Homo sapiens: one gene and its partners. The protein of the gene in region 2 purifies or fractionates together with the protein of the main gene of each other region. This does not show direct contact. Each region holds a gene or a part of one and is shown on either strand. Other genes may lie near its edges.

The links.
Region 1: the proteins of IBSP (region 2) and METAP1 purify together in Homo sapiens (affinity purification with mass spectrometry; one large-scale study listed by BioGRID and IntAct). This does not show direct contact.
Region 3: the proteins of IBSP (region 2) and CPAP purify together in Homo sapiens (affinity purification with mass spectrometry; one large-scale study listed by BioGRID and IntAct). This does not show direct contact.

Annotation. Positions count from the first base shown.
Region 1 is NC_000004.12:99,044,126-99,047,781, reverse strand, and holds part of METAP1 (methionine aminopeptidase 1), read right to left. Parts: intron 2,604-3,656; coding exon 2,472-2,603; intron 1-2,471. UniProt on the Homo sapiens protein: Cotranslationally removes the N-terminal methionine from nascent proteins. The N-terminal methionine is often cleaved when the second residue in the primary sequence is small and uncharged (Met-Ala-, Cys, Gly, Pro, Ser, Thr, or Val).
Region 2 is NC_000004.12:87,797,997-87,801,752, reverse strand, and holds the start of IBSP (integrin-binding sialoprotein precursor), read right to left. Parts: upstream 2,200-3,756; 5' UTR 2,120-2,199; intron 1-2,119. UniProt on the Homo sapiens protein: Binds tightly to hydroxyapatite. Appears to form an integral part of the mineralized matrix. Probably important to cell-matrix interaction. Promotes adhesion and migration of various cells via the alpha-V/beta-3 integrin receptor (ITGAV:ITGB3).
Region 3 is NC_000013.11:24,912,839-24,916,494, forward strand, and holds part of CPAP (centrosomal P4.1-associated protein), read right to left. Parts: intron 254-3,656; 5' UTR 188-253; coding exon 1-187. UniProt on the Homo sapiens protein: Plays an important role in cell division and centrosome function by participating in centriole duplication. Inhibits microtubule nucleation from the centrosome. Involved in the regulation of slow processive growth of centriolar microtubules.

The DNA of each region.
Region 1 (3,656 bases), about 11 Mb from region 2:
CTCCCTCACACTAAGACCCAGGAGCTGGGCACTGTCAGACTCCTAGAGAACCTCAAGATGGCTCTGGGGATCCTTAACTCTCTCTACTCTCCTACTCAGCCTATCTGATTCCCAGACTGAGGTTCAGATACAATGTATCTTTCCCATCCATTTCAGGGTAAATAGCTCAAGGAATCAGTTTAATTAACATTTTTACTTGCTCTTAACTGTATTTTGCAGCTTGATTTTGGGGGGAGAAGGAAGGAGGTTTCTGGTTTTGAAAAATCATGCTGACTTTCATAATTACTTTCTTTCATTCCTATCCAGGCCTTCCTATCAGCCTGGGGTGGGAGGGGGAACAATATTGTAATCCATGTTGCATAGAAAGAGTGACAGAGGAAGTCTTCCCTAATTTTCAAACTGCTCCAACTGCGGCCCCAAGGGTAGTATCTAGAGATATTAATATTTCTGGTTGTCAAACACAGGGTGGTGGTGTAACTGGCATTTACTGGGTAGAGACCAGGAATGCTTGTGGAACATCTTATGTGTATAGAACAGGTCTCTACAACAAAAAATTATCAGGCCCAAAAGCCACTAAGTGCATAGACTAAGAAACCCTACTTAAGAAGCCTAATTTCAACAGCTTTTCAAACCCTCTACCTGGGGGAGTAAGGGAGGTGCAAAATGAGGGGCAAAAATGATATATACAAAGGAATTCAAAGCACTTTCCAAAAAAGATCAAGCCACTTTCGTTCCTTCCTGGCTACTGTTATGAAAACTATTGGCAAGTTCCAGTCATACGTCATATAAAACAGCATTCTAACTATCTGGTTTTTTCTTTTTCTTTTTTTTTTTTTTTTTTTTTTGTTTCTTCAGTTGATTCACAGAGAAGCAAAAAGAATAGAAATATTGACTATATTATCTGGCAGAAACTCTAAAAATTATTTCAAACTTAAGCTTTCACAAATGACAAATTAAACATTAAATTTCTTCAATTCCACCTCCTGTATTAATGTTTTAAAATAATCAACAATGAGTAATAAGTTTTCAAAATTTCACCTGATACACAAAAATATCATATTCCTTCATTTCCATTCCTCCAACTTGAGTAAAAATTTCATCTCCCATACACATTAAAGAACGCACTAAAAACAATAAAAATACTGGATCAACATTATTAGAGATAACTGTATGTTTGTCTAAGAACTCTGTCCTGTTCACTATTCTGTTGATGACATCAAGATTTGGAGAGACTGGGGAGGATTGCAGGTAGCACACTGGTAATAAAGTTGATATGGTAAGGATTTAACCAGAAGGCTGTTTGCCCATTTATTAACAGTTTGTTAACAACTCCAACAAGATGCTGTTAAGAACTTTCCTTTCTTTTTTTTCTTTTCTTCTTTTTTTGAAATGGAGTCTCGCTCTGTTGCCCAAGCTGGAATGCGGTGGCACAATCCACTTCCCAGGTTCCAGCAACTCTCCTGCCTCAGCCTCCCGAGTAGCTGGGATTACAGGCGCCCGCCACCACACCTGGCTAATTTTTGTATTTTTATTAGAGACAGGGTTTCACCATGTTGGCCGGGCTGGTCTCGAACTCTTGACCTCAAGTGATCTGCCAACCTCAGCCTCCCAAGGTGCTGGGATTACAGGAGTGAGCCACCATGCCCAGCCCCTTTCCTTCTCTTATCCCCATAAGATACTGATTAAACAAAAAAGCCTCGATAAGTTGTTCATATGTACAAAGACAGACAGCCTGAGAAAAATCCTCCAGAAATACACCCCTACCCATTACTACAATAGTAAGAAATCTGGAAAGCACCAAAATCCAACAGAATAGTTACACAAATTGTAATACTATAGAATATAATACATAGCCATTAAAAGAATGAGGTAAATCTATGTCTGTAGGTATATATGCTAACTTGAAAAGATCTCTATGATAGTTGAAAAAACAGCCCAGTTACACATTAAAAATATTATGATTCCATTTAACTTAATTTAACACATACACATACGTGTGTGCATTAATGCACAGGAGAGAGAAAAAACCTAAACGGTAATGGGATATCTCTAGAGAGAAGAGAGAGATAAGAGGGGAGGCAAGTGTAAAGGAGGATCACACATTTTTCACTCATAATCTTCACTTTTAATTTTTTATGAGGAGAACATAATATTTATGTACTGGAAAGAATTTTAAAAATAGAATAAAAGTTGCACTAAAAAACCATCTGCACAGTCCTCTTCATTTATCAGGCAAAGAAAAGGAAGATAAATCACAGAAGAAACAAAGGATGCTAACCAATCATCTGGTCTATCACCACCAAGAGATTCCCAGATCATCCTTTTACCCATTACTGCTAACAACCAAAGCTAACTCAGGTAGAACAGGGGCAACCTGGAAGGTACAAGGAATGCACAGAACTGCAGCGCCCAGTCATTCTTGGCCCATCAACACACAGGACTGCCAATAGGTGCTCAACACTGAGGCTGACCTGCATCAATGGCTTGCATCAGGCACTCATATGTGGTCTGAACAAGTTTCCGTGCTCCATCATCCACTTCTCCAACAAAAAATGTCTCATTCAGGTCCCCATGATAACCATTGCGATAAAGAGTGATATCCACTGCAAGAGAATGTGCAAATATAAAGACCATACTTATTTTCATTTCAAAATTCAAGTGTTTTTCCAACATGACAGCATCTAGCAACTTAATGAAAAAGACAACTTCTGCATTCTCAAATTAGACACCAATGGATAGATAGTTATTGCCCAACAGAAGCTCCCTGAGATGTAACTGAACTCACTGTGGAGAGCAGGAATATGGCCATGTAACATAAGCCAGATAGTGGGTTTTTATACTCTTATAGTAATTGTATCACTTGTGGCAAAAGAAAAATGTATGTGGGACACAATCATGCAAAATAAATTACCAGAGTTAGTAACATTAAATTGAAAACTTTGCTACATTGCTACAAAATACCATTTTCACTTATCTTTTACAAGTTCCTTACTCCTGCTAGGGAATAACAGAAAAATTTACACTGCTCTACACCTGTTTTTTTAAAACTCATTTGCTTTTCTCTTATTTGTGAATATTCATTCTTCTCTTTGTCCCCATGTTTAAGAATATAGATTACTATTATACTATATATTATATACTATTATACCATTATAATGTATCTAGAGAGCACATTGAGTATTTTTAAACCACATATTTCAATCAACCTGTAACATCACAATATAGATATTTTGGTTCTAGCACAACACATACATTCCTGAAAAACCTCACACATTCTACATATAATAAAAATAACAGGCTTTATATTTGAAAAACAGGGTTGGCCTCAAAACCTATGGAACTTTATGAACAGATACCCTAACTAAAGCAGTAGCAATTCTAATAAAAATAGTGTCATAGTTAAATTTCGGCTATCATTCACAGCTAGCATCACAATCAGTCAATTATCTGCAGCCTCTAACACTTGGGCTCATGCTTCCTCATTTGATAGGTAGTTCCTTTAAGATATCTTATTAACAAAGAGTCTAATTCCATCAATATTAAAATGCCATCTAAGCCAGGCACGGTGGCTCATGCCTGTAATCCCAAGACTTTGGGAGGCCAAGGTGGGCAGATGCTTGAGTCCAGGAGTTTGAGACCAGCCTGGGCAACATGGC
Region 2 (3,756 bases):
AGCCTGGGAGGCCAAGGTTGCAGTGAGCCGTGTTCATACCACTGTACTCCACCCTGGGCAACAGAGTGAGATCCTGTCTCAAAAATAAAACAAAAAAGCAAAAATCACTGATACCCTATAGGCGGTTTCCAGCTTCTATATAGGTTTTGGGCTAAAAATTTATTTGTAAAATGGAAAGTAGGAGCAATTTTCCTCTGAACATCTTGGAATAATTGGTGTGTGTGTGTGTGTATATGCGTGTGTGTGTGTGTGTGTGTGTGTGTGTGTGTGTATGGGTGGGTGGATGAGAGACAGAGACAGAGAGACAGAGAGGATCCATAATATATGAAATATCACACTGACATCATGTAGCACGCAACAGCAACTCCGCTAAGGATGCTTCCATGAGGAGTTCTTCAGAGTTTCGCCTTGAGATATCGGGGGCAGATTTCCTCAAATTAATTTGCTCTCCAGCTCCATTTAAGCTTTCCATCTGCTAGTGTATGAGACTGTACTGGGATGGATTAGGGGCTCTCCAGGGTTAGGGTGACAGACATGGATGAAAATTTCAATTCTATGGAACAATCGAAGATGCAGCTCTCAAAGTGGGAATAGGGCCTGAATAATCTTGGGGATTGCAGCCATAAAAAGAGCCTCAGTTCCACATAAATTCCTCATGAGTAAAAGGAGATAGTGAAATGCTATCCTATCTTAATTTTATTCTATTTAATAAAATTGTATTTAAAATTATATCATAATAGAAGTTGGGCAAGCTTAGCTGAAAGCCTACTAACACTCAGCCATTTACATTTACATACACATTTAACTGTTAGCACCTTCTCATACACAGTCACAGCTTTGGCAATATTTTGGAAGCAAAATGTAGTGGTGATGGCAATTTCCCATGAATACATTTTGAAAATAATACTTAAAATGTGCAAACCAATGTCATATATTGAAACCTGCTGGTAAATTGTGTATTGTGTCATCATCAGCCAAGATTTATTGCATCCTTACTGAGTATCTGACACTAAGTCCTGGAGATACTGTCTTGGGTCCTAAGTCACACTCTTTTTGTGTGTCAGAGTGAGTCTTTGGGTTTTGGTGCCCAGACAGTTTCTCACAGTCCTATCTTAGTAAAAGGTCTTGATGGCCCCTTGGGAATAAACAGGCTTTGCTCCTGAAGGAGCCCATCTTTTTAAGCAGCACTGATTTCTATCGGGGTGGTCTAAATAATGCTTTGAACTTTGCCAGCCGTGACCAAGCCCATCAGCAAAACAGAAAGATTATTGCTTTGCCACTTTGTGAGAAGGGTCGGAATATTTATAATATTTTAAAGAGCTAAAAGCTTAGATACATAGAATTATAGAAATAGTTTTGATTACACAAATTTCTCATAACAATAAAAATAACCAGATGAAAAGATGGCATAAATAATAATAATAACAATACAAAGAACCAAGTAGTTCTTGTAGTCAGGATTGGCTGCCTATATAAATCTAATTTTATTTACTTTGTGAGTCAACAAAAAGCCAAGACCTCTATAGTGACCACTACTAACCCAGACAACAATTCAAACATTCTTAAAGGAGAATTTTGAGGATTTAATTTCAAGTTTTATTGGGAAGGGTATGATAAACTACCAAGAGTATTTATTTCTCTAGTTAGTACAATATATTTTCTGTTCTGACTTTAGAGCTATAGGAAACATCAAAACCTAATGTTTAATATGTTGAAAAGACAACATATGTACTTGAAGTACAGACTAGGTATAATTTGTAGAGAAATATGCATATATCTAGCCAGATTTGCAAATGCAAAATAGTATTTCAATCAGGTTATCTTGAATGCATCAGAATGAGAAAACAAACAGTTAAGCTATGATTTGCAGAGAATGAAAGTAAGAAGCATAATGTAGTTTATGTGCATAGTATTAAGAACTTATTTACATGCTTAGGTTAATAAGTTTAGCCTTTTGGAAAGAATTTAAAATCTGAAGTGCCAGTTTAATGATAAATAATTATTAAACCATGTACAATGCAATAACATCATTTAAATGAAAAATTCAAAGCCAAGTTCAGAGATGTAAACTATGGAGTGTCTAATTTTATGATAATGAAGTTGTTCTATTAAATCTTACCCTCTGGCAGTCCTGGAGTGAGGAAGCAGGCTCAAGGCAGTGAGTGGCACAGATTGAGTATTTCCTCTGCCCTCTCACTCACTCATTCACTTGCTCTTGCTGGCTATAAACTCTTCTTTGCCTTCCAACAGCCAATCACTGTCACGACCAAGGTGATGTCAGAACGTGGATTCTCACCAGAAAACCCCCAAACTTCAACACTTTTTCAAGACACAGGCTCAGTTGAATAAACAAGAAACGTGATTCTAGAGCCAAGAGGTTTGCATTGTGGAATTTAATTGAAGGTTTAGATGAAGATGAATAGTTTGGGCTCCGAATATGTATAATAATATACTGGATTTGAATTAAAATAAATAACAAAGGCTTTAACCTTTTAAAAATTTCATAATTATACAAGTTTTCACTATGTCGAAAGAAAGGAAAGCTTGCTGTCATTAGATATAATTTTACATTAGTTTAGCTAAAAAAAGAAAGAAAAACTAAATAATAAGGGAAAGGAGCAGATGAACCATCAATATTTTAATATCATTTGATGTTTCCTCCTGAAATATACTTCATTGACTCATAAATTAAAGTTGATATGATTAAGTCGGTCAGACTTTGTAAGATATAGTTGCTAAAACATGATGCTGAGTATAAAAGTTAGAACTTTTGAGAATCATACCACTGAGAGGCAGATTTTATATTTTGTTTTGTAAATTAAATCTCTGTATATTGTCCATTTATGTGGCCCTTCCTGTCGTGCATGTGAGGTCAGCTCATTTTTTTCTTGGGCTTCTATATATATCTTTTCTATTCATTTTCATATTTAATTTTTTTCCTATGAGAATAACAAAATGACTAGAGCTAGCAGGAGTGATCCATTGTTTTTGAAATGATTCATGAAACCAACACCACAAAGAATGGATTGATAAACTAAAGTACTAATTTTTTAATTTACAAAGGGAAATCTAGCTTAATAGTTTGCATATTCTCCTAGTCTAGTCATTTTATTCTTCCTCCAGTTGCGAAGTCTGCTTGAGAAATCAAAAATTAATGAATATCATTTTTTTTCTTTTTTTCTCTTAATTTTTTTTATTATTATACTTTAAGTTTTAGGGTACATGTGCACATTGTGCAGGTTAGTTACATACGTATACATGTGCCATGCTGGTGTGCTGCACCCACTAACTCATCATCTAGCATTAGGTATATCTCCCAATGCTATCCCTCCCCACTCCCCCCACCCCACAACAGTCCCCAGAGTGTGATGTTCCCCTTCCTGTGTCCATGTGATCTCATTGTTCAATTCCCACCTATGAGTGAGAATATGTGGTGTTTGGTTTTTTGTTCTTGTGATAGTTTACTGAGAATGATGGTTTCCAATTTCATACATGTCCCCACAAAGGACATGAACTCATCATTTTTTATGGCTGCATAGTATTCCATGGTGTATATGTGCCACATTTTCTTAATCCAATCTATCATTGTTGGACATTTGGGTTGGTTCCAAGTCTTTGCTATTGTGAATAATGCCGCAATAAACATACGTGTGCATGTGTCTTTATAGCAGCATGATTTATAGTCCTTTGGGTATATACCCAGTAATGGGATTGCTGGGTCAAATGGTATTTCTAGTTCTAGATCCCTGAGGAATT
Region 3 (3,656 bases), on a different chromosome or scaffold from region 2:
CAGAAAAATGTGTGCCTTTAATAGGAAAGCTGGTAGAAATGTCCACAGCTGCTCGCTTCTCTTTGTCTGCTTCCAAAATAGGAAATCCACGATTTAATATGACCCCAGCCCGAGAAGGATTGGTCATCCACTGGGTTAGGAAGTTCTGCCCACTGTTTAACTCTGAAGAGGTTGGCATCAGGAACATCTTAGTCCAATGACACTATTATATTTAAACAATGCAAAGGCTAGAAGAGCTATTGATTTCCAACACCTGTAGACAAAAATAGCCAACAAAATGTATTAGGTAAAGCCATTAGATGTCCTACCAAAAATGAGCCCAAACCTCAACCCAGCATAAAAATGTCCTCAATATTTCATATACAAAAGACCTTAACTAGCAAAGCAATTGGGCATTGAGCTACATTTTTCTAAGTCTTAAAAATAACCAAATTGAGTAGATCAAAAACGTAAGATCCTTCTTGACTTAACCATTCAATTACTAATGATTTTATACAAGTGCTAGATTAGCTGAACTAAACAATGGAAGATAAAATACCTTTTAAGTTATTCACTTAAAAAAAAAAAGCCACTATCAGATATTACCCACACTAAGCACTTTCTTGCTTCTGGCCCTAGTTTAACATTGCTTCTTTGCCCAGTTGGTGAACCTGTTTTCTCCCTAGTTCTAGCACAAAAGTCAACACCAGCACTCCTGGCTTTACCTGGCAGTTTCACCTGTCCCTTCCTCTCTCGTCTCCCTACTAACACCTCACCCACCAGATAGCCCCTCATCTGTATTCCTAGAGGTAAAATAGTGACATCACTCTTCTAGCACTCATCTCATTATTAGTGGCATTTTGCTTTCATGTTCATTACTAATCCGTGAAGTTCCTTGAAGATATCTATATATTCACTACTGCCAAGCACCATGTCTGGCAGGTAGGAGAAATGTAATTCTTATGGCATAAGCCAATGAAAATTACATTGGCTCATGCCATAACTCTGTATGAATTATCAGACTTTAAAATTAACCAAATTCCTACTGTAACTTTGCACTGTGTGATAGATATACTTAAACAGGACATAACAGAGAAGATAAGCCTTGCCTCTGTCTGTGTCTGATTTTACTCAACTAACATTTATTGGGTTCTTACTCTGTGCCAGATATTGTTTTTGCCCCTGGGTACATAGCAGTTCATAAATCACAGTCTAGTGGGGAAGACACACACACACACGCACACACACATTATACAGTATGTTAAATAGCAATAAGTGCAAAGGGGAAAAATAAAAGCCACGTGGGAAAAGGAGGTTGTAACTTTAGACAAGGTGGACAGCATCCTCATTTAGAAGGTAAAATTAAGGACCAAGGGATGGAGAAGGTACAAGTTGTGCAGCTATCAGGGGCAGGGTAAGTAAAGACCCAGCCACCCAGCCTTCCTAACCTTCATCTGCAAGACACTCCCACTGACATCCCATTCCTCCAGAAACCCCCAGTTCTCAAACCCCATCACCATTACCTACCTATTTAAACCTATTATATCACTCACCACAGGAAGCCCTGAGATCCAGAGCCAGGCTTCACTTCTTACACAGTAATCCCTACACCTTATTCTGTTCCATCTCCCAAACATCCGAGCCCCAAAACACTAACAGTCCATCATCAGCAAAATCCCCATTATCCTCAACCTCTTCTCTGAGGACTCCCTCACCTTCCTGAGAACATCTGTTTGTATGGAGCCCATACTCCAGTATCACTGAGCCTGGAGACAAAACATATATTCTTATTCTTTTGCTCCTTCCAGACTACACACTCCTTTTCTAGACCATAAAAAGCAATTTTACTTGGGAGTTCTGAGGTGGCAGGATTGCTTGAGCCCAGGAGGTCGAGGCTGCTGTAAGCCGTGATTGTGTCACTGAACTCCAGCCTGGGCAACAGAACAAAACCCTGTCTCAAAAAATAAATAAATAAGTCGGGTGTGGTAACTCACGCCATAATCCCAGCATTTTGGGAGGCCAAGGCAGCCAGATCACTTGAAGTTAGGAGTTCGAGACCAGCCTGGCCAAGATGGTGAAACCCCGTTTCTAATAAAAATATAAAAAAATTAGCCAGGCGTCAGGGTGCACGCCTGTAATCCCAGCTACTCAGGAGGCTGAGGCGGGAGAATCGCCTGAACCTGGGAGGCAAAGGCTGCAGTGAGCCAAGATCACACCACTGCACTCCAGCCTAGGCAACTGAGTGAGACTCTCTCTCAAAAAATAATTAATTAATTAATTAATAATAAATTAATAAAAAGCAATTCTGACTCTCATATGACCAAACTATACAATCTACTGCCCCTCCTTTATTGTCTACCAACCTCCAGAGATCAATAGGATCTTCTCCCTCATTTCTTAAAATTTCCTGGCTGAGCACCTGGAAGAACAGATTTGCCATTCACTGAAATGCGGAAGATGGAGGATTGAAACAGGTTTTGGGGAATCAGAGACCAAGAGTTGAATTCAGGACATTTTAAGATGCCTATGAAATATGCACATAGAGACACTGGGTCAGCAGCTGGGTGCACTAGAATGGAACTCACCGAAGAGGCCAAGGCTGTGAAGCATAAATTTGGACATCCTCAGCATAAAGATGGTATTTAAAGCCTTGACACTGGATGAGATCAATGAGGGATTGAGGGTAGTCAAAAAGAGAGGAGGCGGCTGGGCGCAGTGGCTCACGCCTGTAATCCCAGCACTTTGGGAGGCCGAGGCGGGTGGATCACCTAAGGTCAGGAGTTCGAGACCAGTCTGGCCAACATGGTGAAACCCCATCTCTACTAAAAATACAAAAAATTAGCTAGGTGTGGTGGCGGGAGCCTGTAATCCCAGCTACTCAGGAGACAGGAGAATTGCTTGAACCCAGGAGGCGGGGGTTGCAGTGAGCCGAGATAGCGTTATTGCACTCCAGCCTGGGCAACAAGTGCAAGACTCCATCTCGAAAACAACAACAACAACAACAACAAAAACAGATAAGAGGCAAAAAGTGTAGCGTCCTTGAGGCTAAGTGATGAAAGTGTTTCGAGGAGGAAAGAGCTATGTTAAATGCTGTGAAACAGATGAAGGGTAAGGAGAACTGAGAACTGACCTCTGAATTTGGCAAAGCAAAGGTCATGAGAACTTCAATGAGAGTAGCTGAGGGCAGGGACAGCAAAACCTTGAGTGGAGAGGATGCATGACAGAATAAGAAATTGAAGGCAGTAGGCACAGCTAACACCAGGAGTTCTGTTATAAAGGGAAGGAATTACATAGAAAAGCAAGGTGAAGAGGAGTATTTTTTACAATAGGAGAAATAAAAGCATGTTTGTGCAGGCTGATGAGGATGGAGAAAGGGGAGAATTGCTACAGTCATGTTCTTGAGGAGATGGGAAGAGTCTAGTACTGAAGTGGAATAACATCTCACACTACTTTCCAGACACAATTCTAGACTTTATCAATATAATACAGCAAAATATATATATAATCAAAGGAAAATGAAAAAGGGCAATGTGGAGGCAAACACGTATGTCATTTCATACTCGGTGTCTAAAAAACATAAACATATAAAAAATATAAACAGAAAAAGAAATACAGATGCCAAAACATTAAAACATGCGCATTCTCACTCCACTGAAGAGATGGAAATGAAAACAGTA